Regions from separate parts of the Homo sapiens genome. Here all the other regions are reported to be linked to region 2. The links are microRNA targets in miRTarBase. Many come from high-throughput screens and were not tested one by one. Region 2 holds a microRNA gene; each other region holds the end of a gene's coding sequence.

Region 1 (5,126 bases), not on the chromosome of region 2:
TTAAATTGCTCCTCTTGAAGTTTGGTTTAGTTCTTAAAGCTAGGGGTGGGAATCCTATCGCCCTGCCCAAGGAGCACCTTTCAGAGGTGGTGGAGGGAGGGGTGAAAGGGGTGTTGAAGGGGAAGAGGAGGGATGCTGTGGAAGGATACTGGGCCCACCCTGGAGCTTCCTTGGCACCTGAGGGAGAATGAGGCAGTGATGGGGCTGCAGAGGCCTATGGGGCGCTCTGCCCCAAGACTGTCAGGCTGGTGTGAGTGAGCTCTCCCCTCTCACACCTGGCCCGGGATTCTATCAGGATATTGATCTTATAGGCTGTGATTTCCTCTGGCCAAGAATCCTTTCTCTGGAAGGCCCTGCAGGAAAAACCTCTCCTCTCCACTCTACATGTAGCTGGCAATACATGGATGGGAATCCCAGGAAGAGGGAGAGGAATTTAGCAGGGACCCGCAAACTAAGTCTGCGGCCCCAATTTCACAGACGAGCTGAGCCAAGGTCACGCCCAACGAACCTGGTTTCTTCCCCTCCTTCAAACGAGGCCTAAAAACAAGGACCCGAGACAGGGCACTTCAGCCTCGATGTAGGGAATGGAGCGAGAGCTCTAGAAAAGGCGGATTCCTTCAGGGTGTCCCCACTCCTTGACACCAACACACAACAGTGGTTACTGCCACTGTTGGAGGGAAGAAGGGCTGGCACCCAGCAGCACCACCATATAAAGTCTCAGGAAAGTGTGTAACTCTACCGATGGAACAGGACATGAAACAGAATCACATGTGTTAGAAGGGGTAGAGACTGCAGCTCCAGGGTTGAGTGGGTGGGATCTGGGGTCAAGTCCTGGATCTACCTCTCACCATTTGGGAGAATAGGGCAAATGTATTTATTTTGGTGGGAGTAAAGGGGATAGGATGTTTCTTAATCTCTTTAAGCCTCAGCTTCTTCATCTTGCGTTGTTGGAGGATTAAATGAGATTTAAATGAGTGCAAAGTTCAATAAATCATACACATCAATTCTCCAACAGCATACACATTTCAGGCATTTTAGGAGCCCCATCTCATGAAGGAAATCCATACTACTGTGGCAGATGGGGGTGGGGAGGCACTTTCCACTCAACACCTCAGTTCAACTCTGGCCAGTGGCACCTGCCGGGGTGGCTTGGGGCTTGCCACCTGGAGGCCCAGCTCCAGGGACACCCTTCACAGAATATCCTGTGGGAACGGCACCCCCCTCCAAGCACAACAGGGCCCCTTGAGTTTTCAGGTATCAAGACAGGAGACGACACGACATGAGCAGTGGGCTACCATTATTAAGCACTTAGTGTTTGCCCAGCATGGTACAACAATCTGGTAGGTGGGTAGTTTATCTCCAATGACACATGGGGACAAGGGGATAAGTTATCTTGCCCAAAGTCACACAGCCAGTGAGTGTTGGAAGCTGGATTCAAACCCAGACGTCAGATTCCAGAGTCCATTCTCTTCAAGGCTGGACTTGACCCCACCCTGACCCAGGGCCCAGATTTGAGGGCTCTCTCTGAGCCCACCTGACTTTCCTCCAGGGTCAAGGCTGGCTGGGTCCCCTGGAGCCCTCTCCTCCACCCCCACACCCAGAGGACAGGCTGCATCAGGGGTCTTCCCACCCCCACCCCATACCAAGGCTGCTGGAGAGGAGCCTGGCCCAAGGTGGCGCTGCCCCTCTTGGACCTCCAAGAATGCCGCATGGAGCAGCCCCTCAGGGCTGTAGTCCCTCTACACCTACATTGGGCCCCTCCAGCCTGGACCCCCACCCCTCCCACTTCCTGGCTTCCCATCCTTCAGGTCTCGCAGAAGCCTCCTCAACACCCTCCCTGCTTGGTCTCTATCCTTCAGAACCCTCATCACAACCTGTCCTTGCCTCTAGAACGGAAGCCCCATAGCAGCAGGGACCACGTATCTGTTTTAGCTTCAGTTTCTAGCCCAGTGCAGCATTGTGAAAATCCTTAGTAATATTTTTAAAAAGTTTTCGAATTCTACTTTTCTTTGCTGACTTGGCATGTGCTTTCTCCTCTGCCCGTAACCCCCGTTCCTCCTTATTTCCTTGCTAACACCTACTCGTCTTTCAAAGCTCCATGCCACTGTCTCCTTGAGGAAATTGTTCCTGTGCCCCCAGTAGGTAACACACCAGACAGAGGCGAGATTCTCTATCCCGCCCCAGACAAGGAGCCTTTGCTTTGCAGGGCTCCCCTTGGGACCCTCTCTTGCCAGGAGAGCCTCTAGAGAAGCCATCTAGAAGGGCATTCAAGACTCAGCAAGCTCCAGCTCCCAGCCTGGCAGACTGGGTGGGGGAGGGCCCAGCTGGTGGGCGAGGCTGGTTTATCGATGTTGCCGAGAGCCCTGGGGAAATCAAGGTGAAAGGCAGCCACGCTGCTGAGGAGGCCCACCCGTTTATCAACCAGAGGGGCTGGGGCCGGGCGAAAAGAGGCTTGGCTGCCAGAGGCAGCTGTGAGGTGGGAGGTCCACACCACTCCGTGGACCTGGAGGCTGGGCTACACACTGTGCAGCCCGGGCTGCTGCGACAGTGTTTCCAACATGGCGCTAATTCTAGGTAACTAAGTTTGGCTTTAGAAATACCGTCACTGGAGCCACAGGGCTTGCTGACAGAAATCCCCAGCACTTGGCATTGGGCAAGGAGCCCTTAGGGGGTGAAGGGCAGGCTTATTCAGCGGCCTTGGTGCAGTGGGCACACAGGGCACCGGCCCTGGGAGCCTCTGTCTTCCTCTTGCAGGCCAGGGTTGCCTCCTGATTGTGGGTTCCTGTCTGTCTCTCAGGCCCCCAGCCAGGGCCAGCCCAAGGGAGCAGGGGGTGCAGAGCACAACCAGGAGGATGGAGCCAATGGGTGCCTGGAGCAGGGGCACAGAGAGGGAGTCCAACCCAGGAGCCCAGCAAGGCGCTGCAGCTAAAGAGGTCGAGGGAAACATGCAGGGAGACTGCCATCCCTCCCCAGCCCCAGCTGCCCCATAGCAGGAGTGGCCTTGGCATCCCACCTGCTCCACATAGCACCCAGGCCATCTGAGCAGAGTGAAGATGTCAAAGAGAAAACCAAATCGGATTGAGGCTCCTGCTCCCCCTTAATGAGGTTCATTATCAGCAGCTCTGATCCTTGTAAAACCCAGCAGGCCGGATTAGGGGCAGGCTCTCTAATCCTGGCTGACTCCTCCCCACCGAGTGGCCAACCCTGCAGCTCTGACAAACAAGCCCTTGCTTCCTGGAGGAGCTGGAATTAGGCAGGTGCAGACAGGCTTCTCCCTCACCAGCCCAGGGCACTGAGGCAGGAGCTCTCAGGGAGGATTGGGGCAGGGGGTGGCAAGGCTGCACATCCAGAGGCCTGTCTCCGTGCATGAAAAGGCCATGGGGTTTGGGTGCAGACAGTTCTATGGGCAGTCTGTGGCCAGGAGCTGTGTGTGCTGAGGGACATCGAGTCTGGCTGCATTCCAGGTGAGGCTGGTCTCTGTGCATTCTGTCCAGACTGGACACTAGGTCTCCAAGTAGCAAGTTAAAGAACACACCAATGCTTGCCTTAACAAAAATAATTTATTCCACACACCTCCCAAGGCAGGGGGTAGCGTGGGAATCAAGCATGTGTAAGGCACTGCCCCCGCCAGACCCTTCTAACTTCTGCACACTGGAAGGTGAAACCTGGAGAGAGAAGACACTCCCCTCCCTAGCTTCTACCTGGCACCCTCCAAAGATGAGCATTCATCTTGGAGACCAAAATAAAAAAGGACAAAAGACCAGGCTCAGAGGGAGCAGAGCTCAATGGGGGGAAGTGAAAGCAGCCATCTTCTCCTGCAGCTAAGCCAGGGCAAGGCACTAGAGACCCACATCCTTCCCATGCCACCAACTCGTCAGGTCCCACCAAGCAAGCCACTCACCCTACAGCCCAGCAACCATGGCTTGCCTCACCTGGGAGACCAGCACGACTTCCAGAAGCTTCCAAACCCCACCCTGAAGCCAAACCCCACCCAGGAGGTCTGAGGAGCTGGAGGCTGGCCAGGCATAGAGGGCCCGGGGTGGTCCTTCCTCCCAGGGTGCAAAGGCTTCTTCATTGTCCGGAAGGGAGCAGGGTGGGCGGAGCCCCAGCAGCTAGTGAGGAGTTCCATTCCAGCCCACCCAGCTGGGGGACCCTCCTCTGGCTTCACTTGCCCCAGTTGAGGGCCAAGACCAAGCAGGAGAGACTGAGGCTCCAGTGAGAATGAGGCAGGACTTCAAATAAGCTGAAAAACAGGAATGTGGTGCTAAGAGGCCAGGGACTGAGCTGCCCTATGCCCACTGCCCGGGGCTGCCCTCCCTGCACAGCAGGGGAACCTGGACCCTGCTCCTGTCTTTTGTGTCAAAGGAGCTCTCTGTCCTAGCAACCCCAAGAAGCTTCACTGGAGCAACTCGTTTTCCTGAATTTCCCACACTTCTAGGCCAGACAAGGAGCAAGGGGTGGGAGGGGAGGGAATGGGGTCAGGGGGCTTGAGGTGCCTAGAGATGGCAGCTCCCTCTCCCGCCTCCTCCCCAGGTGGTTCAGGCTGCAGGGTGGCCAGCATGGCCCTTCAGGGCCCTTATCTTGGCCTGGAAGTAGGTGTACATGGCCAGCAGGCCCATGAAGGACAGGGAATAGAGCCCCACACAGAGGCTGATGTCCAGGTAAGAGAAGCCCCCTCCCAGCACCTGCAGCCACTGGCCTCGGCCCCGTCCAGCTCGGGCCTCCAGCTGGCCCTCAGGGATGTCGACCAGCTGCTTGGAGCTGCGGCCCACGCGCCTGACCTCCAAAGGGCCCCAGAGGCGGTTCTTCTCAGCCCTGGACTCAGCCAGCAATGCAGCCCCTGTGTCTCGCTTGCTCAAGTGCCACTGCCCAAGCGGCTGCTCCTGCTCATTCCTCTGAAGCTCTGCCATGTGCTCAGGAGGCTCCTGGCCTGGTGCAGCTCTGAGGCCAGGGTGCAGCTTCGGGGGTCGACTTGCCTCAGGTCCCTCAGCCGGCACATGTGGGGTGGTGTTTGTGGGGGACTTCATCATCTCAGGCTTCCCAGGGTCCAGAGTTGAATTCCGGCTTTCCAGCTCCAGGGCTCCCATCGCCAGCTCTGGGGCGGCTGCCACATTCTGCACATCCCT
Region 2 (5,000 bases):
TCATGGTGCTTCCAAAGCTCTCCCAAACTGCTGCCTACCTTGAGTGGCCCTGACCCCTGCCTTTCTGCAGGGCAGCCCTGGATCATCTGGACCCAAGGGTGACCGTGGGGAGCCGGTGAGTAGGGCTGGTGTCCTGGGCTCAGAAGGGATGGAGGGTCCCCTGGCGCTGCTGCCAGTGTGCCTTCACACAAGGGGTCTGGAGGTCCAGGTGGGAAGCATGGATGGCCACCCATGCCTGCTGGGGGCTGGCATTGGGGTGCTTCGGGGAACTTGGGGGCAGAGTTGAGCCTGGGGCAAACCAGAGCCATGGCCTGGGACCTGAGGGCTCCTATTGACTATAATCATTTCCTTTCCCAGGGTCCCCCAGGACCCCCGGGACGGCTGGTAAGGGCTGCGCTGGGTCTGGTCCTCTGTCATTGTTCTCACTTGCCCCTTTGGCTCCACATCATGTCCCCTCATTCCTTCCACTAACTCCCACTTCCCCCACTGTCCCTCTGAAACCTCCGCGGATCCCTGGAGCCCCTCACAGACCCTGTATCCCCTCGCCAACTCCTCTTCCCCTTGTTGAGCCATTCTTCTCACTGGTCATTCCCCCCACAGGTAGACACAGGACCTGGAGCCAGAGAGAAGGTATTAGGGTCTGTGGGTGGAGGGTAAGAAAGACCCCAGTGCCCCTCCCAGCAGGTTCTACCTTGGGCATGGCTTGGCTTCAAGGCTGTTCCTCAGCAAGCTTATCTCTGCCACAGGGAGAGCCTGGGGACCGCGGACAAGAGGGTCCTCGAGGGCCCAAGGGTGATCCTGGCCTCCCTGGAGCCCCTGGGGAAAGGGTGAGTGTGATTGGTCCTCGGGGGTGCAGGCATGGGAGGGCCTGCTCTGATTTCTTCCTCCCCTATCCTCAGGGCATTGAAGGGTTTCGGGGACCCCCAGGCCCACAGGTGAGTGATGCACTTTGCCCCGTCTGCCAAGTCCCCATCTTACCCTCACCTCTTATCTGACCCTGTTCCCTCCAGGGGGACCCAGGTGTCCGAGGCCCAGCAGGAGAAAAGGTGAGAGGGTGTGGGGGTTTCTCAGGACATGAGCCTGGGTTATCAGATCCACCTCAGCCTTGGTGGCCTCTTACCACTCTATTTTCCACAGGGTGACCGGGGTCCCCCTGGGCTGGATGGCCGGAGCGGACTGGATGGGAAACCAGGAGCCGCTGGGCCCTCTGGGCCGAATGTGAGTCTTGGTAGTCCTGCCTGGTTGTCCCCTTCCCCTACCCCTTCACATGAGGACCCTAGACCCCAGCCTCATTGGTTGGTCTTGGCCTTGACGAGCTCTGGGGCGAGACCTGTTGTCTGTGTCTTCTCCCAGAGCCCTGCCTGGGTGGGGCATGTTCTTGCCATGCAGGCCTTAGGCTCACAGGGACTAGAGCCCCTGACCCCATGACCATGATGAACTGACTTTGAGTCTCTCCTCAGGGTGCTGCAGGCAAAGCTGGGGACCCAGGGAGAGACGTAAGTGAGGGGAGATGCTGGGACAGAGGGGGCTCGGGGCTGCGTAAGCTCCAACCAGATCATCATAGTCACAGCATCCGAGAGAGTTGGTGGGGGGTCGGTTCAGCCTTGCCTTTGGGAGGGTCTCAGTCCCTGGCACACAGGTTTTAGTAGAATCCCCCTTTCTGACCTTCTTTGCCTTGGGGGTCTTCATAGGCCCTCCAAGTCCTGGGGGTTCTTCCCTTGGGAGTCTCAGCAGGGGCCCCCATCCATGGGGTCTGTGCCTGAGGGATCTCAATGGGACCTCTCAGTCCTGGGGGTCTCTACCCTGGAGGGAGATCTTTTTGGGGTCCTCTTAGTCCATGGGGTGTGCCCCAAGGGATATCTCAGAGGCCCTATAAATCTTAACAAAGACTTTTTCCAGGGGCTTCCAGGCCTCCGTGGAGAACAGGGCCTCCCTGGCCCCTCTGGTCCCCCTGGATTACCGGTGAGACCAGACTTTCATGTTACCCCCTTTTCCCCCTTACTACCCTCACCCGATCCCCGACATCCAACCAGTGATCTGTTCCCACAGGGAAAGCCAGGCGAGGATGGCAAACCTGGCCTGAATGGAAAAAACGTGAGTGTGTCCAGGGCAGCTGCGGCGAAACCTGCCAAGAAACGCCAGCACACCTACACAGCCAAGATCTGTAGCAACACATGAGGCACACGTGTAGACACATGCATCCTGGCCCAGACATACAGATGCATCCAGAAACATAGTTTTTTTTTTTTTGAGATGGAGTTTCGCTCTTGTTGCCCAGGTTGGAGTGCAGTGGCACAATCTCAGCTCACTGCAACCTTCGACTCTCGGGTTCAAGTGATTCTCCTGCCTCAACCTCCCGAGTAACTGGGATTACAGGCATGCGCCACCATGCCTGGCTAATTTTGTATTTTTAGTAGAGATGGGGTTTCTCCATGTTAGTCAGGCTGATCACAAACTGACCTCAGGTGATCCGCCCGCCTCGGCCTCCTAAAGTGCTGGGATTACAGGCGTGAGCCATTGCGCCAGGCCTGGAAACATAGTTCTATATGCACACACAGGCAGCCTCACAGACACATAGGGAGTTAGGTGAATGGGCCAATTTATGCCAGGATGGGCTGACACATGCCCAGATAACCCACAGCCATAGGCACAGGTGAAGAGCCACAGACAGGTCGACAGGCACAAACACACTGGTGTGTAGCCACATTTGGGGCACTTAGAGACATGTTGATACCCAGACACTTCCACCCAGACTCATGTGCTAAGACATGGACCCAAGACCGCATGTGGACCTGTGTTGAGACATGGTGAGACACACATGGATGGCTCTGACCTGTGACATGTGCTAGGACATGCTGGCCCATGACTTTATATGGTCACCCACACGCTTATGGTCATACACATTGAGCTACACACAAGAGTTGCAGACAGATGCCAAGACACATGGCTCTCAAGGCATGTATAAGCCCATGCTCTTTGGAGACATGTATAAGCCCATGCCCATATGCAGACATGGGCCAAGATGTGCAAACAGACCAGGACACACAGACCCATGGGTACATGTACTAAGACACACATGGATATGCACACACCCAGGACATGTGGACGATCACCAACCCAGAGATGCATAAATGTGGAGCTACCTCTAGAGAGCCAGAGTCAAAGGACATGTGTGCAGTTGCCTGTTGGGGTGAGCAGGCCTATGCAGGCACACCCTTAGACATGTAGCAGCTCACTCAGACGGCCACAGGCCATGCTCCAAGACACACACAACCATGGAGCTACAGGCACAGAAATACAGTCACAGTCATCTGAAATCTAGCAAGGTAGTGTCTTGCAGCCAGACACCAGTGAATGTTTGGGCTGATGTGAGTCCTCTGCCCACAGGGAGAACCTGGGGACCCTGGAGAAGACGGGAGGAAGGTAAAGTCCCCCACCTGGGGTCTCTCTGGTCTCTGCTTGGAGCCATGCCTGAAGCATCCTTGTCTTCCTTAGGGAGAGAAAGGAGATTCAGGCGCCTCTGGGAGAGAAGTGAGTATTGGAGTTTTCTGCAACCTCTGACCCCTGACCCTGACCCTGGGGGAATATGACTCCACTCTTTTCTGAGGTCTCAGGGTGCTGATGCTGGCTGCATCCTTCACAGGGTCGTGATGGCCCCAAGGGTGAGCGTGGAGCTCCTGGTATCCTTGGACCCCAGGGGCCTCCAGGCCTCCCAGGGCCAGTGGGCCCTCCTGGCCAGGTGAGTGTCCTGGGTCATTCTGGGACTTCAGAGCATTAGAAGCCATGATGTTTCAATGGGCAACCCTCCTGGGAAGCCATGGGCCTTTGTGACCCCTTTGTGTTCTGCCGTATCTCAGGGTTTTCCTGGTGTCCCAGGAGGCACGGGCCCCAAGGTGAGTGCGGATGTTGGGTAGGGGGCGTGGTGAGGGGGCTGACCAGGCTGGGGGCCATTTCCCCACCTGGTCATTCTTGTTTTCAGGGTGACCGTGGGGAGACTGGATCCAAAGGGGAGCAGGTGAGGCCCCCACCTTTTCCACATGCCCAGGTAGCCACAGCACCCACATGTGCACATGCACACCCATAGGCTGGTTCCTAGCAGTTTGTCTTCATCTCTCCAGGGCCTCCCTGGAGAGCGTGGCCTGCGAGGAGAGCCTGGAAGTGTGCCGGTGAGCCAGGCTTGGGATGTCCCCTTGACTCTGTTTTGCATGCCCATTGGGGCCACCTTGCCATCCCCTTCCCCTTGCCATGAGGCTCCATAGGTTCTGTGCTGTGTGTTCAGTGCCCTGCCCCATTGGGGTTCTTGTAGCCCACACTCAAGGGAACTTGGGCAGTGGGGACACACCAGAAAGGGGCTCCCAGGAGTCTCCAGCCATGCCTCAACCAAGTGCTAAAGGGTGCTCTGGGCAAGAGGCCTAGGGAAAAGGGTGTGAAGGTGCTTTCCTGAGGCCGTGCGGGGCAGAAGGCAGGAGCTTCTCTGTCATGGGCAGCCCTTCACCCAGACTTTGTCCCCAGAATGTGGATCGGTTGCTGGAAACTGCTGGCATCAAGGTGGGTTGTTTAGGGGCTGGGGGTAGGGACAAGTGGGGGCCCTTGGGGCTAGTGGTGCCCACAGGCATAGGGGCTGCGGCGACGCACCCCGCTCCTCTGACCTCTTGCTGTCCCTCAGGCATCTGCCCTGCGGGAGATCGTGGAGACCTGGGATGAGAGCTCTGGTAGCTTCCTGCCTGTGCCCGAACGGCGTCGAGGCCCCAAGGGGGACTCAGGCGAACAGGGCCCCCCAGGCAAGGAGGTGAGCAGAAGTGGCTCAGTGGGTTGTGCCCCGTGGAGTGGGGTGTAGCTGTACAGCCACCAGCATTCTCTCTTCCACTCCTGCAGGGCCCCATCGGCTTTCCTGGAGAACGCGGGCTGAAGGGCGACCGTGGAGACCCTGGCCCTCAGGGGCCACCTGGTCTGGCCCTTGGGGAGAGGGGCCCCCCCGGGCCTTCCGGCCTTGCCGGGGA
Region 3 (5,126 bases), not on the chromosome of region 2:
GGTTCTCGCTATGTTGCCCAAGCTGGTCTCAAACTCCTGGCTTCAAGAGATCCTCCCACTTTGGCCTCCCAAAGTGCTGGGATGACAGGGATGAGCCCTCGCGTCTGGCCTCTTTCCTCTACTTTCTCTCCCAAGGACACCCGCTGCATCAGGCCACCTGCCTCTCACCACCTTTTGTCCCTTCCCTGTCCTCCCTCACTTCCCTGCAGCCAGACGTTCACATCGGATGCGGCGACACCACCACCACCACCAACACCACCACCAGCATCACCACCACAAATCCCGCAAGGAGCGCAGAAAACACAAGAAACACCCAACGGAGGACTGGGAGAAGGACGAAGGGAATTTCTGCTGAAGAACCAGAAAAAAGAAAGCACAACACCTTTCCCATGCCTCCTCTGGAGCCTTCGCCTGGGGAGACAGAACCCAGAGAGAAACAAGAGAGTCCAGAAGTCCCTGAACCCCAAACCACATCCCCCACACACATAATCCTTTGTACAAAGCTCCTCTTTTCCCTTTTTTTACATACACAAGATCCTCTTGGCAGGTGGAGCCAGGTGTCTGAAAAGTTCATTCTCGTCTGGCTGAACTCTGGGAGTGTGTCCCAGCTGAGGGAAGCACAAGTAGCAAAGCTCATTGGTCTGGTCTCTTGTTTGCCAGGCTGATTGAAGCAGGCCTTGATGAGGGTGCATGAGTGTATGTTTGCATTCACATGAAGGAATTGCTTTTCACACCAGAAATTCAGACTTAGTCAATGTTGGCTGAATTCCTAAATCCAGGAAGAAGCCTGGACGTAGGGTCATTAGCTTTGGGAATAGAAGGCTACACAGAAGCACACTGTTTTTGAACTTGACAACAGCTCTCCCTTTACCCTGGACTTCAGCCCAAGTTCCGTCTTTGGTCTTGGTGGATAAACACACAGTGTGGAGATCCCACGTACTGCATTTTAGGGATGTTTTTAGGACAACCTCCCTCCATGCCTTCAGAGTTAGGAGTGAGAATGATCAAAGCAATATGTAGGTGATGGAGGGAGAGTGTATTGCTAACCCTTCCAGGTCTAGTCCAGCGCTGAGATTTGGTGGTTCTGCATGTGTGATGAATCTCTTTCACACAAATAGACGAGAGGATATTTAGGGCTAGATGAGCCCAGATTTCTTCCCCCTCCATCTCTCAGGGAGACAAAGAACCTCCTTCCTGGACCAAGGAGGTGCTGCCAAGTTTTCTAGCCCAGTGCACATACCCAGTCCTTAAGCAGACATTGGTAGTGCCCCTGCCCTGGGTCCCACTCCTGCCCCACCCCACCCTTGTCCCTGGCCATTGCCTGGTGGTCTAGAAACACTTAAAACTTGAAGTAGTGACACCTACCTGCGGTCATATTGTAGAGAGATGCTCAGTGTTAAAACTGAAACACACAAACACACACACACACACATTTTTCTCTTGTAGATTTTAATTTTTTAAGTGGGAAAGAACTCACCTTGCCTTCCTCCCCCAAATGTGCAACCTGTAAAAGGTCTCTCCACACCAGGGGCCAGGATCCAGTTCCCTCATCTCTGGCAGGAAAGATCCACAGCTTTTCCTCCATGTCTGTTACTCACTTTCAGCAGTCCGGGTAAAATCTGTGGATCAGGGTTAAAAAAGCACCGTGGAGAATGGCCCTCTTCAGGAAAGAAAAATAAGCAAATGAATGGTCCACCTAGGGGTTCAGTAAAGAAAGAAATGTGTTAACTGAGCCTGAATCCCTTCTGGGAAGTAATAATGACCATTGACAACTAAGAAGTAGACACCATGCTAAAGACTTACATACAATCTCCTTGAATCTTCTCAATAGCCCATTGACTTAGAAACTGTTACTTTCCCATTTTACACACAGTGAAACTGAGGCTCAGATATAAAGGAAAGGTACTGGCTTGAAGTCACAACCACGACAGGAGTAAGGATTTGGAATAAGGATTTGGTCCTGTTTTCTGGACCAAATCCTTACTCTGGCTCTGCTTACACTTTCTCTCCATCACCAAATCCTTACTCCAAATCCAGAAGTCAGAGCCAACTCCCATCTTGGTTCTGACCCAAATCCTGCTCTGGACTCTGGAGAGGAGATTGAAATATAATTGCACCCTCATACACATTTAGGAAATGGTTAAGAAGTGTAAACTGAACCCTTATCCTTGTCTTCAATCTTCCTCCCTGTAGACATCTATCTTATTATGGTTATTATTCAGAAAACCCAGGGATACAGGTTTGTCTTCTTACTTTGATAACTCTTCTTAGTTTAAAATAATAATAATAACACATCTTTGGTCATCTATGTCACACAAAAATTTTCCTTTGTTTGCGGGGGGCTGGGGATGCAGTGTTTTTTGGGGGGTCTTGGTTTATGCTCCCTGCCCTTGAGCCCCTCAGCCGTTTGCCCTGCCCCCACCTCGGCTCCATGGTGGGAGGGGGCTCTGGTCTTTTCTAAAGTGGGCGGTTTGTCTTTTGATCTTTCCCTTTTGGATGTGCGTGTGTGTCTGCGTGTGCCATGTGCGTGGCACGCATATGAGTGTGTGTGCGTGTGAACGGCTTTGGGTCCTGCTGGTTTTGCTGTGAGCTGCAGTGTTCTGTGGGTCTGTGGTATCTGACACTGTGGACATTAATGTACTTCTTGGACATTTTAATAAATTTTTTAACAGTTCAACCTGCCCGTCACCACCTGATACCTTCATTCATTCATTCATTCAGCAAGTATTTACCCGAGCAGCTATTGTGATCCATGTACTGTACTGGGTGCTGGGGAGATAGTGGTGAACAGAGAAGGTTTGGTCTTTAGTGGGTAGTCACAGAAGGCTTCCCCGAGGAGGGGAATGGAATCTAAAGAAGAAGTCGCATTAACTAGATGAGGAGAGAAAGAAAGGAAAGGCATTCCACTCAGAGGAAAGAGTGAAAGCAAAAGTCTTCTTGCAGAAGGGAGCGGGCGCAGTGGCTCATGCCTGTAATCCCAGCACCTTGGGAGGCCGAGCCAGGCGGATCACAGGGTCAAGAGATCGAGACCATCTTGGCCAACATGGTGAAACCCTGTCTCTATTAAAACTACAAAAATCAGCTGGGCATGGTGGCATGCGCCTGTAGCCCCAGCTACTCAGGAAGCTGAGGCAGGAGAATCACTTGAACCCAGGAGGCAGAAGTTGCAGTGAGCTGAGATGGTGCCACTGCACTCTAGCCTGGCAACAGAGAGAGACTCCGTCTCAGAAAAAAAAAAAAAAAAAAAAAAAGAAGGGCTCACTCGAATCAGTAGGAAAAAGACAAATCCATTAGCCAAGCAGGCAAAAGATATAAAAAAAAGTTTACAAAAAAGGAAATAGCAGCTCTAAAACTACAATATAGACTCAATAAAATAATACACATTTTGCAAGAACATCTAGATTCACAAGGAAGGACATAAAAATATAAGAGAATAAACAAATGTATCAAAAGATGGCCAGCATGGTGGTTCACGCCTGTAATCCCAGCAATTTGGGAGGCTAAGGTGAGCAGATCACATGAGGCCAGGAGTTCAAGACCAGCCTGGCTAACATGGTGAAACCCTGTCTCTACTAAACATACAAAAATTAGCCAGGTGCGGTGATGCGCACCTGTAATCCCAGCTACTCAGGAGGCTGAAACAGGAGAATCGCTTGAACCCAGGATGTGGAGGTTGCAGTGAGCCAAGATCACACCATTGCACTCCAGCCTGGGTGATAGAGTGATCTCCATCTAAAAAAAAAAAAAAGATCCTTGCATATATCAAAGATGATAATGTGCTTGAACTGTGAATGATTTACGATTTGCTCGACCGCCTGCACCTAAGGTCAAAGTTGGTGGTGGTGGTTGGAGATGTTCAACCTCACAAATAGAAACGCAAGCAACAACCACATTGAGATACCATTTTTCACCTATCAGATTGACAAAAATAAAAAGTGACAAGACATGAGGCTAATGAGGATGTGTGGAACAGGTGAGTACTTTTTTTTTTTTTTGAGAAGGGGTCTTGCTCTGTTGCCCAGGCTGGAGTGCAGTGGTGCAGTCTCACCTCACTGTAACCTCCGCCTCCTCAGTTCAAGTGATTCTCCTGCCTCAACCTCCCGAGTAGTTGGGATTACAGGTGCCTGCCACCATGCTGGGCTAATTTTTGTATTTTTGGTAGAGATGGGGTTTTGCCATGTTGGCCAGGCTAGTCTCGAACTCCTGACCTCAGGTGATCCACCCGCCTCGGCCTCCCAAACTGTTGGGATTACAGCCGTGAGCCACCATGCCCAGCCAGGTGAGTATATCTATTACCTGTGGAGTATAAATTGGCCCCATCTCTAAGAAAATGTGGAAATCACTATGAAAACGGCGAGTTTTAGTCTGGGCACAGTGGCTCATGCCTGTAATACTAGCACCGTAGGAGGCCAAGGCAGGTGGATCACCTGAGGTCAGGAGTTCGAGACCAACCTGGCCAACATGGTAAAACCCCATCTCTGCTAAAAACAGAAAAATTAGTTGGGCGCAGTGGCAGGCGCCTGTAATCCCAGCTACTTTAGAGGCTTAGGCAGAAGAATCGCTCGAACCCGGGAAGCAGAGGTTGAGGTGAGCCGAGACCGTGACATTGCACTCCAGCCTGGGCAATAGGAGCAAAACTCTGTCTCAAAAAAAAAAAAAAAAAAAAAAAATGGTAAATGGGGAGTTTTGACCCTTTGAACAAACAGCTTCTTTTTTTTTTTTTTTTTTTGAGACGGAGTCTCGCTCTGTCGCCCAGGCTGGAGTGCAGTGGCGCTATCTCAGCTCACTGCAAGCTCCGCATCCCAGGTTAGGCCATTCTCCTGCCTCAGCCTCCTGAGTAGCTGGGACTACAGGTGCCTGCCACCACGCCCAGCTAATTTTTTGTATTTTTAGTAGAGACGGGGTTTCACCATGTTAGCCAGGATGATCTCGATCTCCTGACCTCGTGATTCGCCCACCTCAGCCTTCCAAAGTGCTGGTATTACAGGTGTGAGCTGCCGTGCCCGGCCTGAACAAACAACTTCTGATATCATCCTCCAGTTATACTTGAACTTGTGAGTGATGATGTGGATACTTACTTCTAGCAGAAACATATTGAGAACAATATAAATGTCCACCATTAGGAA
Region 4 (5,126 bases), not on the chromosome of region 2:
TTGGGAATTGTAATCAAATAGAGTGGGCTGAACACCAATGCCAGAACTTTCACTGATAAGACAACTGAAGCAAATGAATTTAGAGGTTAGCACAAGTTGACACAGACTCCATGGCATGGAGGTTCACAGCATAGGCTCTGAAAACCAAACAACTCATTCCTTAAACAACCTCAGACAGGTTATATAACTTCTCAGAGCTTCAAGCATCCTTACCTGTATAATGGCAATATTAATAGGATCTATTATGAGAAGTAACTGAGTTCATTCATGTAAAAGACTTAGTGCAAAGTATATAATAAAAATTAACGTTTGAGTATTAAGATTCAAGTCATTTTCATCCTCATCCTAGTGCTTGGAGATTGATTCTTCTATTTCCAATTCTTTAGCGCTCAAGGACGCTTTATAGTCGGGCCTTATCTCTAGAGCTAGATGATTCATATTCATTTCATGGCTTCTTTCAGAAAGTGCAGGTGGTGGTAACTGTTTTGGACTATGACAAGATTGGCAAGAACGATGCCATCGGCAAAGTCTTTGTGGGCTACAACAGCACCGGCGCGGAGCTGCGACACTGGTCAGACATGCTGGCCAACCCCAGGCGACCTATTGCCCAGTGGCACACCCTGCAGGTAGAGGAGGAAGTTGATGCCATGCTGGCCGTCAAGAAGTAAAGGAAAGAAGAAGCCTTTCTGCATTTGCCCATATAGTGCTCTTTAGCCAGTATCTGTAAATACCTCAGTAATATGGGTCCTTTCATTTTTCCAGCCATGCATTCCTAACACAATTCAGTGGTACTTGGAATCCTGTTTTAATTTGCACAAATTTAAATGTAGAGAGCCCCTAAGTCCTTCATCATACCACTGCCCTCCAAATCTACTCTTCTTTTAAGCAATATGATGTGTAGATAGAGCATGAATGAAATTATTTATTGTATCACACTGTTGTATATACCAGTATGCTAAAGATTTATTTCTAGTTTGTGTATTTGTATGTTGTAAGCGTTTCCTAATCTGTGTATATCTAGATGTTTTTAATAAGATGTTCTATTTTAAACTATGTAAATTGACTGAGATATAGGAGAGCTGATAATATATTATACGGTAAATATAGTATCGTCTGCATTCCAGCAAAAATATCAACTCGTAAGGCACTAGTACAGTTAAACTGACATCTTAAAGGACAACTTAAACCTGAGCTTTCTATTGAATCATTTGAGTACCAAGATAAACTTACACCACATACTTGGTGGGTGAATCCAATTTTGTAGAATTCCTACACAGGCAAAATAGCATGATCTGAGCAGCAGCATCCAGGCTGACCTCAAGGAAGCATAGCCACAAAACAGAATAGCACCTGTCTGTACATATTTACAAAGCTAAAATAATGGCTTCACTCTTATATTTGAGGAAGCAACTGAACAGGAGTCAATGATTTCATATTACTGCATATAGAATAACAACAAGGTGTTCCGTGTGTGTGTGTGTGTGTGTGTGTGTGTGTGTGTGCACATTTGTTTGGGGATGGGGGAGAAGAAGCTAAGGGGAGAAGTCAACATTTATGAAATATTGCCTGACTATTTAAAAAGAAAAAAGTAGCTCTCCATTATCACCTTTATACAAAATGTACATCCTGTGAATTCTGTTCCAGATTTCACACCTACAATAATTCCAAAAGGTTTGCACATTAGAGTTTGTAACAAAATATTTTATTATATAAAACCAGGTTAGAAGGAATGCAGGATATTTTTAACACAACAATCTGTGCTTATTACACAAAATTACTTTGTGGTAAACAGACAGTATTGTAATCCCATCAAAAGATGAAAGAAAAACAAAAACAAAAACCAACAACAATTAGCCATAGTTCTGAATGCACTTCAATTAAGCCAAAACAGACAGCTAGTGATCTTTTTATATGCTCTTTTTACTTAAGTTTTAATTTGTCCTTTAAAAAAAGGTGAAACAAACCAAGAACAAGTTCTAGAAAACTGAAGCAACCTCTTATGTATACTAGATGCTTGATTTAGGAGGAGTTTTTAAACGTTTTCAATGTTATTATGTAGTAAATGACACTATTATGAAGCTACTAGTCATTCCATAAGAGTCTTAAAGGACTGCTCTGTGTAACACTGTGACTGCCGTGTGTGCTTAGACCCGTAGTTTCCTCAGTGGATAGCACTCAATTTATTCCGTAGTGATATTGTAACAATACTGCCATTCCCTTCTACTGCACTGCCCAAGGTGTGTGTAGCACAAACAGTTCTCATTACAAAGGACCAATTCAGAACTGAAAAGCTATGCATAGGACAAGGAAGATACATAGAATGGGGTGGAACACAGCATTTTGTCAAGCACTGTGCAATATTCCATATTTTTCCCCACTATGGTAGACAACCATTTCGTGGAAGGGCAGCCTATTATCCCACACTGCATCTAGCCTTTTGTCCCATTCACTTCTGTGATCCATTTTAATTTCCAGGCCACAAGACAGTAGTGATGCTCTGAAATGAAAGTTTGTCTTCACAAATATCAAAACAAAATGGAGGAAAACTAAGCATTGGCCTCATGTTCAGTCTTCAGGATATCACACCACGTCTTTTCAAAAACTAAAGAGAATTCAAAAAGGGCTGATGGTAGGCTTTGAACATGGGGTTGGCTGTTTCCCAGTAAAACTGGAATTCCTGTCGTTACTGTTTCCTTATCAAAGAAGGGGCAAGCTCTTTTGCCTTTTAGGCCAGACATAGCAAACGCTTTATAATTGGCATAGACATAAAGGATAAAAGGAAAATAACCGTCTGCCGATGGTCCGTACTTCTTAAAAAACATAGGTAATAGAAAATATACACAAGTCAGAATGTGAAATTAAATAATGGTTTGAACAGAAAATTCAAACAAGACTCTTTCCAATTTAAAGGGCCAAACCCTACCAAAGAGAGGGAGTTGACTGGCTTTTAAAAAGTATTTAAATACCACAAATGACATTTAATTTCACTGTATTCAGCTTTAAGTTGTTCACAATGAAACCACACTTTCAAACAAGCAGGTTCAAGCTGCTGAATAGACATTATTTCTTGCATTAAAATACCACTAATGCATTCTCTTGCAACACTGCCAGACATGGGATTGTCACCATAGAATTAGTTGGTACTATGCCATCTTTCACTCTTTCACAAGTCAGTGATGGAACCTGCTTTATGACCAAGATTCATCCTCAAATAAGCCACATGTACCCTTCTGACAAAGCTGTGTAAAGTATTAGAATCTGATGCTCTAGAAAGATCCTAGTTGCCTTTGTGTATATTTACTGCCTGCTTGAGTGTTTCTATGTGTGGGTTTTCCCTGTATCTTGTAGAAATGTTGGGGTGTTTTCCTCTGCCATATGGCTCGTGGCCTGCGAGCCAACTATTTCAGCTGTATTTTACCTTCATTTTTGATGAGGTGATTTAAATTTTGTTTCACTTTGTGTAGTGAATTCCACAGTAGTTTTCTGATTGTTGTTAAAAATGACTTAACATATTACACAGATATTCAATAAAAATGTTTTATTTCCTGTTGATGTTGCTGCGTTCCCACTCTTTTCCTTGCCTGACTCTGGTGGTAAGCCAATGGCCTATTGACTTTGGGGGACTCCTGGAAGCAGCAGCAGCTAAACAAAACTGCACTGAATGCCAGCATCTGAGTCACATCTGAGTACAGAATAGCTAGAGGGAAAACAACACCCGGGAGCATTTGGCCATGACCGCGTGGTGTTCCTGGGCAGTGTCATTCTCAACATGTGTTTCTCTATTCCTGTGTGTCATCAGTTCATCTGGCGTACTCTGAGGCTTTTCACTTTGCCCAGCATGTGTCCTTCAGGGTTTTCACTCCAGAACCCAAGTCACACAGCTTCTCCAGAATGGGACGGAAAACAAAACTATTTAAACCCCAGTTTCAGAGGACAGTATGACACATTAAATTCTATGCCTACTACGATCGCTATGGGAAACAAGTAAATACTTTTCCTCCACTAAATTTAACATTTATCAAGTGCCTACTGTACTGGACGCTGAAGCCCACAGTTTCAGGCTGATGTAAATACGCTATCCCAATGCACTGTGATGTGGGCTTAAAAGTAAGGGTGTTGGGTCCCTGAGGACTTTTTTTTTTTTTTTTTTTTTTTTTTTTTTTTTTGCGGAGTCTCGCTCTGTTGCCAGGCTGGAGTGCAGTGGTGCGATCTCGGCTCACGGCAACCTCCACTTCCCGGCTTCAAGCGATTCTCCTGCTTCAGCCTCCCGAGTAGCTGGGATTACAGAAGCCCGCCACCACGCCTAGCTAATTTTTGTATTTTTAGTAGTGACAGGGTTTCACCATGTTGGCCAGGATGGTCTCCATCTCCTGACCTCGTGATCCACCCATCTCGGCCTCCCAAAGTGCTGGGATTACAGGCGTGAACCACTGTGCCCGGCCTATCCCTGAGGACTTTTACTGGATCAATCGTAGTAGATACCATGGTGTATCACCATGATCCCCCTTCAGCAGAGAGGTACTCTTGCTGCAGCTGCTGGAAGTGGTGCTTGCTGACAGCTGACAGCTGTGTTCCTCTGCGCTCTACAGAAGGAAGCTGTCTCACCTAAGTTTATGCACCCTCCCTGGGAGCAGCCCACAATCGGCTGCTGATTTCGGAATCTCTGAAGCGCCATCTCAGTTTCATAGCCCCAGGAGTTAGTGGAGACTGCTTTCGCAACTGCACTGCAGTTCAACTTCTTTCTCTGCCCTGTTGGTTTTCTTCAGTGTTTTGCAGGTGTTGCTCCTAAGAGCACTTCCTCCAATAAAACCCCTTCATGTACAGTTTCATCTCAGAATCTGTATCCTGGGGATCCCATCCCACAGCACATTCTTTGGGGAGGAGATATCAAGAAGAGTTTTCTAGAGAGGATAACACAGCGAAGTACTAAAGGAACTGGCAGGAGTCATCCAAGTAAGGGAGTGAGCAAGACTTCTGCAAAATTTATCTCACTTGACAAGTGTATTCATGATGGAGTCTTTGAGGTTGGCTGTATTATACTTCCTTCACTCAGCTCTATCAGTCATGGCCAAATAAAAATAGGAACTAAACCCAAACTGCTAAGACAACCAGTGGAAAGATCACTT
Region 5 (5,107 bases), not on the chromosome of region 2:
CTCCGGGGCTCCCAGCTTGCCCTCTGCCTACTGGGGTGTGCCACCAGGCAGCTGGGGAACCCTCACACTGGGCACCTCCTCCCACTGTTTACCTTCTTCTCCTTCCTGCTCCTGCCTGCCTCAACCTACCGTGGGCCAGGCTTTATTCTCCCCACTTCTCCGGTGGGGAAGCTGAGGCCCAGGGAGGGCAGGGGGCTCACTGAGGGTCAAACAGCAGGCGAGTTGATGCCTAGGTTTGGCACTCCTGCCCGACACCCTGGTGGCTTGCGGAGGTCAGCCTGGGAACACCCTGGGGTGGTGTGTGGGTGGGGGCTGGGTCCTCAACCCAGGCCTGCCTCTTGCTCCCGGCCTCACTGCCGTCTCCCCCTCCCCACCTGTCTTTATTCTCTTTGCAGCAGAAGACCCCCTGCTGCGCCCAGCCGGCCCACCATTATCCGCCCAGCCGAGCCATCCCTGCTCGACTAGGCCTCGAGGGGGGCGTGCTCTCGGGGGGGCCTCACGCACCCGCGGCGCAGGAGCTTCAGTGGTCTGGGGCCCTCCGCCGCCCCTATGCTGGGACCAGGCTCCCAGTGGGCAGCCCTGGCCTCTTCCTTAACGCTGGCCCCGGTCCAGGGCCGGCCCCTGTGCCTGGCTGGACACCGCACTGCGCAAAGGGGCCCTGGAGCTCCAGGCAGGGGGCGCTGGGGTGTTGCACTTTGGGGGATGGAGTCTCAGGGTGGCAGAGGGGGGACCAGAACCCTTGACACCATCCTGAATGAGGGGTCCAGCCTGGGGGGGACTCTACCAAGGTCTTCTTGGGCTGGGAAAGCCCATGTAGGGCAGGCCTTCTATAAGTGCGGGCACCAAGGGCGCCTACATCCCCAGGCCTTGCTGGGGTGCAGGGGTATATCAACTTCCCATTAGCAGGAGCTCCCCAGCGGCAAGCCTGGCCCAGTGGGCTCGGTAGTGCCCAGCTGGCAGGCCTGAGGTGTACATAGTCCTTCCCGGCCATATTAACCACACAGCCTGAGCCTGGCCCAGCCTCGGCTGCCAGAGGTGCCTTTGCTAGGCCCGGAGCCGTTGGCCCGGGCCGGCCTTGCCCTATTCCTCTCCTCCTCCTCCTCCTGGGTCCCCCAGGGTGGCTGGGCTTGGGCTATGTGGGTGGTGGTGGCGGGGGGTCTTGGGGGCCTCTCAGCTCCCGCCCATGCCTCCCTGATGGGTGGGCCCAGGGCGGCCTCTCTCTGAGGAGACCTCACCCACTCCTCGCTCAGTTTGACCACTGTAAGTGCCTGCACTCTGTATTCTATTAATAAACTAAAATAAAGGGAAGACGCTGCTGGTGGCTGCTGTGTGGGCCTCTTGTGTTAGTGTTCAGGCTGGGGACATGGGTGCCACCTCCATCAGGCCTCCCATAAGGATGCCCAAGTCCCTGCACTCATAAGTGCCTCCCATCTCCCTGAGGGCTCTGCTTTCGGGGGTGTCACCTTTCAGAGGAAGCCACTCGATACAGGGGAGAGCTTTTACTTTCCTTAGCATGTGAGGAGTGGGAGCAGATATTCTCTGACCCCCTGCACACCCCCACGTGCACAGGCCTGGCTGCTGCCTGGTGAAGCGGGGACCCCAGCGCTCCACCCCCTTCCTACCCTCAGGCCCTGCTTCTCTCACCTCGTGGGGAAGCCCAAGCCTCGTGGCCCAACTGGGGCTCAGTTAAACTTTGCTTTCTGATTTTTCTCTTGTGCCAGGCGACCACCTCCATCGGCTCCCGCACGACCTTTCTTCTGAGCTTCGTGGGAGGCCCCTCCCACCTGTCTGGCTGCCCCCTCGGGGGCCGGTCTGTCCTGGCTGGTGTCCCTGAGCCCCAATCAGCAGGCTCTTGTGATTTTCTGACCATAATTTATTGACTCCAATGCCCAGGCCACACCACCCTTTGTTATAGGAGGCTTCTGCCTAGACTTTGGCCGGGCCATCCCTCATGCCTGTGTGGGGCCCCTGCAGGAGAGGGGCCGGGGCAGGTGGTCTTCCAGGCCCCCTTCCTGGCATTCTGTTACCAGACCTCAACCTGGCTTGGAGGGCCCAGGTTTCCTTGTTAGGCCCTGCCCCGCACCAGGCAACGCTAACACAGGATGGGAGGCTTAGGCTAAGGCACATTTACAGTAGAGGGGCCAGGAAATCCGAGGCTCACGTTCCAACGCTGCAGTGCCCACCATGTGAGATTTCCAGGACCGTCGGTGCAGCCACTGAGCCGTCCCTTCTACAAGCCAGAGGTGTTCCCTGCCCGCTGAGGACGGAAGGAGACTCATGGGGCCAGACCGCAGGCCCTGACTGCACACTCCCGTTTTGGCAGGAAACTAAAATTGGGGAGGGACCCCCAAGTCTCATATGCACACACCCTGCTGCCCCTCCTTTGTCCCGTTCTTCCTTCCATGGCAGGGGCTACGTGGGCACCGGGCGCTTGTCCTGGAAGAAGCGCTTGAGCGTGCAGACCTGCAGCACAGCCACCAGCAGCAGCACCGCCACGTTGACAGCTGACCAGAAGTTGACCCGCTCCAAGTTGCCCTCTTGCAGGTTGCGGTCACGTGCCTCGAAGGCCCGCAGTAGCGTGAGCATCTGGATGCTGCGCTCCAGCCGGGTCCGCATGGTCTCAATGGACTCCTACAGGGCAGCGGGAGGGGAAGGGTCAGGCCTCCCTCCACCCATCAGGGAGCAGAGACCAAAAAAACCGGGGGATACGGAGGGAGGCTGTATTAACCCTGGGAGGTACAGCTGCAAACACAGACTTGTTCAGGCTAAGTTCAAATCCTCACCCTGCCACTCACTGGCTGTGACCATGAGCAACTTAATTAACCTATCTGAGCCTGTTTCCTCTTCTATAAGCTTCCAAATTGCTGTGAACATTTAATGCCTAAATAAATGTACAAGGATGAGCATGGTGGCTCATGCCTATAATCCTAGCACTTTGGAAGGCTGAGGTGGGAGGATCGCTTGAGCCCAGGAGTTTGAGACCAGCCTGGGCTACATGGCAAAACCCCATCTCTACAAAAAATTAGCCAGGGGTGGTGATGTGCAACTGCAATCCCAGCTACTCAGGAGGCTGAAGCAAGATTACACCTGTAATCCAAACACAGGAGGATCACTTAAACCCAGGAGTTCAAGACCACCCTAGCCAACATGGTGAAACCTCGTCTCTACAGAAAACAAAAAATTAGGCATGGTGGTGCACACCCGTAGTCCCACTGAGGTGGCAGGATTGCTTGAGCCCAGGAGTTTGAGGCTGCAATGGGCTATGATCACACCACTGCACTCCAGCCTGAGTGACACAGCAAGACCTTGCCTCGCCGTAGCTCACACCTGTAATCCCAGAGCTTTGGGAAGCCAAGGCAGACAGATCCCCTGAGGTCAGGAGTTCGAGACCAGCCTGGCCAACATGGTGAAACCCTGTCTCTACTAAAAATACAAAAATTAGTCAGTCAGGCGTGGTGGCACAGCTATTCAGGAGGCTGAGGCAGGAGAATTGGCTGAACCTGGGAGGCAGAGGTTGCAGTGAGCTGAGATCGTGCCACTGCAATCCAGCCTGGGTGACCAAGAGAGATCTGTTAGAAAATAAATAAATAAGTAGTTAATTAAAATACTAATAAATGTACAGAACATATTTGCTTGTGGTTAAGAGCATAGTTGCTGAAACCAGCATGGGTTCAATACCAACTCTGCTAGTTGGTCTGTGTGGCCGTGAGTTGCTCAGCCATCTTGTATCTCACTTTCTCCACCTGTAAAATGGGGATGACTTGAGCACAGGGTCTGCTTCACAAGGTGGTTTGGAGATTTACGGTATGAGTTATTTATGATATGAGTTCCTTAAACCTTTACACCAGGGTTTATACCTAGAAATGAACTACTTTTTTTTTTTTTTTTTTTTTTGAGACGGAGTTTTGCTCTTATTGCCCAGGCTGGAGTGCAATGGTGCGATCTCGGCTCACTGCAACCTCTGCCTCCCAGGTTCAACTTCCACCTCCTGGGTTCAAGTCATTCTCTGGCCTCAGCCTCCTGAGTAGCTGGGATTACAGACGCCCGCCACCACACCCGGCTAATTTTTGTATTTTTAGTAGAGACGGGGTTTCACCATGTTGGCCAGGCTGGTCTCAAAACTCCTGACCTCAGGTGATCCACCCGCCTCAGCCTCCCAAAGTGCTGGGATTACAGGCGTGAGCCACCGTGCCCGGCCTGAAATGAACTACTTATTTTAAGAGCTGCTACTCTTACTATAATTCAGTTGGAGGGCACAACTACGGAGGGGAGGCTGGGTCAGCCCAAGGGGGGCACCCCAGGTGAATCCTAGAGATCTGGAAGGAGTGGCCCCAGCGCAGCCTGGACACACCTTGATGTCCTCCATTTTAACATCCAGCATCTCCTCGGGCTCCACAGCCTCTGCCCATCCTTCGACCTCCTCGTCATCCTGGAGGCTGTCAAAGATCAGTTCAAAGAACACCAGCTTCTCGGAGATGGTGCTGAAGGAGTTGTCAAAGCACAGCTTGTAGTCCCCGGCCTCCGTTGGCTCCACCCTGGGCAGACAGACACACAGACATGACCCAGGGTGGCCAGCCAGCCGACTCAGCGGGGCAGTCAGGGCGGTAACCTGAGGCCGCCTGGGAAGGGCAGGGCTGTAACTGAACCCAGGCAGGCATCAAGACTGAACTCACGTGTGTACCCCATCAGCCTTGCGGGACTCGCTGACCAACAGCACGCCCTGAGGGCTCTCCAGCGTGAAGTCCACGTCCAGTCCAGCACCTCCGATCACCTGGGGGGCAGGTAAGAGCGGGTGGAGGGCTAGCGGTAGGCCAAGGGCGCCTGCCGAAGAGGGCTACGGCTGAACCAACACTGATCAATACAGACCACCAAGGGCTTACCTGAACGGCGGCACACCCACACCCGCCCCAACCTGTCCCAGTGGCTGCGCCCCTTGCCTCCACCCTCATTGATATGACAGCTTGGGGTCCATACTTTCAGCTGACCACGCACCTACCAAAAGTACTTAATGGACGTTTACCTGACCACGCCCCTGGTTGGCTCCGCCTCCGAAAGAGGATAGGCCCAGCCTTTTTCCTTAGTCTAACCCCCGAGAAAGGCCTGTGTG

Evidence for each region. Region 2 holds the annotated microRNA hsa-miR-711 (GGGACCCAGGGAGAGACGUAAG, at 1,480-1,501, shown strand). A microRNA usually pairs through its seed, bases 2 to 8, with sites in the 3' UTR of a target mRNA and lowers its output. Matches are read on the target gene's strand: a 7mer-m8 pairs with bases 2 to 8, a 7mer-A1 pairs with bases 2 to 7 and ends in A, and an 8mer does both.
Region 1: the mRNA of QSOX1 is a reported target of hsa-miR-711. Seed matches in the 3' UTR shown: 7mer-A1 at 4,336-4,342 and 7mer-A1 at 1,767-1,773.
Region 3: the mRNA of NCAN is a reported target of hsa-miR-711. Seed matches in the 3' UTR shown: 7mer-m8 at 1,277-1,283 and 7mer-m8 at 2,566-2,572.
Region 4: miRTarBase lists SYT1 as a target of hsa-miR-711. Seed matches in the 3' UTR shown: 7mer-m8 at 742-748.
Region 5: the mRNA of DNM2 is a reported target of hsa-miR-711. Seed matches in the 3' UTR shown: 7mer-A1 at 760-766 and 7mer-m8 at 1,105-1,111.

The regions. Positions count from the first base shown.
Region 1 is chr1:180,196,450-180,201,575 of GRCh38, reverse strand. It overlaps QSOX1 (quiescin sulfhydryl oxidase 1), which reads right to left. Exons shown (of 12, transcript NM_002826.5): 12 at 1-5,126. The coding sequence ends at 4,539. Among named protein-coding and RNA genes, the nearest start is that of LHX4, 31 kb to the left of the region's middle.
Region 2 is chr3:48,575,415-48,580,414 of GRCh38, reverse strand. It overlaps MIR711 (microRNA 711), which reads left to right and starts at 1,438; the gene lies at 1,438-1,513. It overlaps COL7A1 (collagen type VII alpha 1 chain), which reads left to right. Exons shown (of 119, transcript NM_000094.4): 56 at 71-115; 57 at 358-384; 58 at 601-630; 59 at 747-827; 60 at 900-935; 61 at 1,011-1,046; 62 at 1,138-1,218; 63 at 1,461-1,496; 64 at 1,900-1,962; 65 at 2,050-2,094; 66 at 3,388-3,423; 67 at 3,496-3,531; 68 at 3,644-3,739; 69 at 3,858-3,893; 5 more.
Region 3 is chr19:19,249,557-19,254,682 of GRCh38, forward strand. NCAN (neurocan) reads left to right here. Exons shown (of 15, transcript NM_004386.3): 15 at 210-2,677. The coding sequence ends at 355. Among named protein-coding and RNA genes, the nearest start is that of HAPLN4, 11 kb to the right of the region's middle.
Region 4 is chr12:79,448,457-79,453,582 of GRCh38, forward strand. SYT1 (synaptotagmin 1) reads left to right here. Exons shown (of 11, transcript NM_005639.3): 11 at 462-3,552. The coding sequence ends at 668. Among named protein-coding and RNA genes, the nearest start is that of MIR1252, 32 kb to the left of the region's middle.
Region 5 is chr19:10,830,583-10,835,689 of GRCh38, forward strand. It overlaps DNM2 (dynamin 2), which reads left to right. Exons shown (of 21, transcript NM_001005361.3): 21 at 396-1,321. The coding sequence ends at 465. It overlaps TMED1 (transmembrane p24 trafficking protein 1), which reads right to left. Exons shown (of 4, transcript NM_006858.4): 2 at 4,674-4,771; 3 at 4,352-4,535; 4 at 1,485-2,631. The coding sequence ends at 2,413. Among named protein-coding and RNA genes, the nearest start is that of TMED1, 3.1 kb to the right of the region's middle. RefSeq lists an enhancer at 4,128-4,765.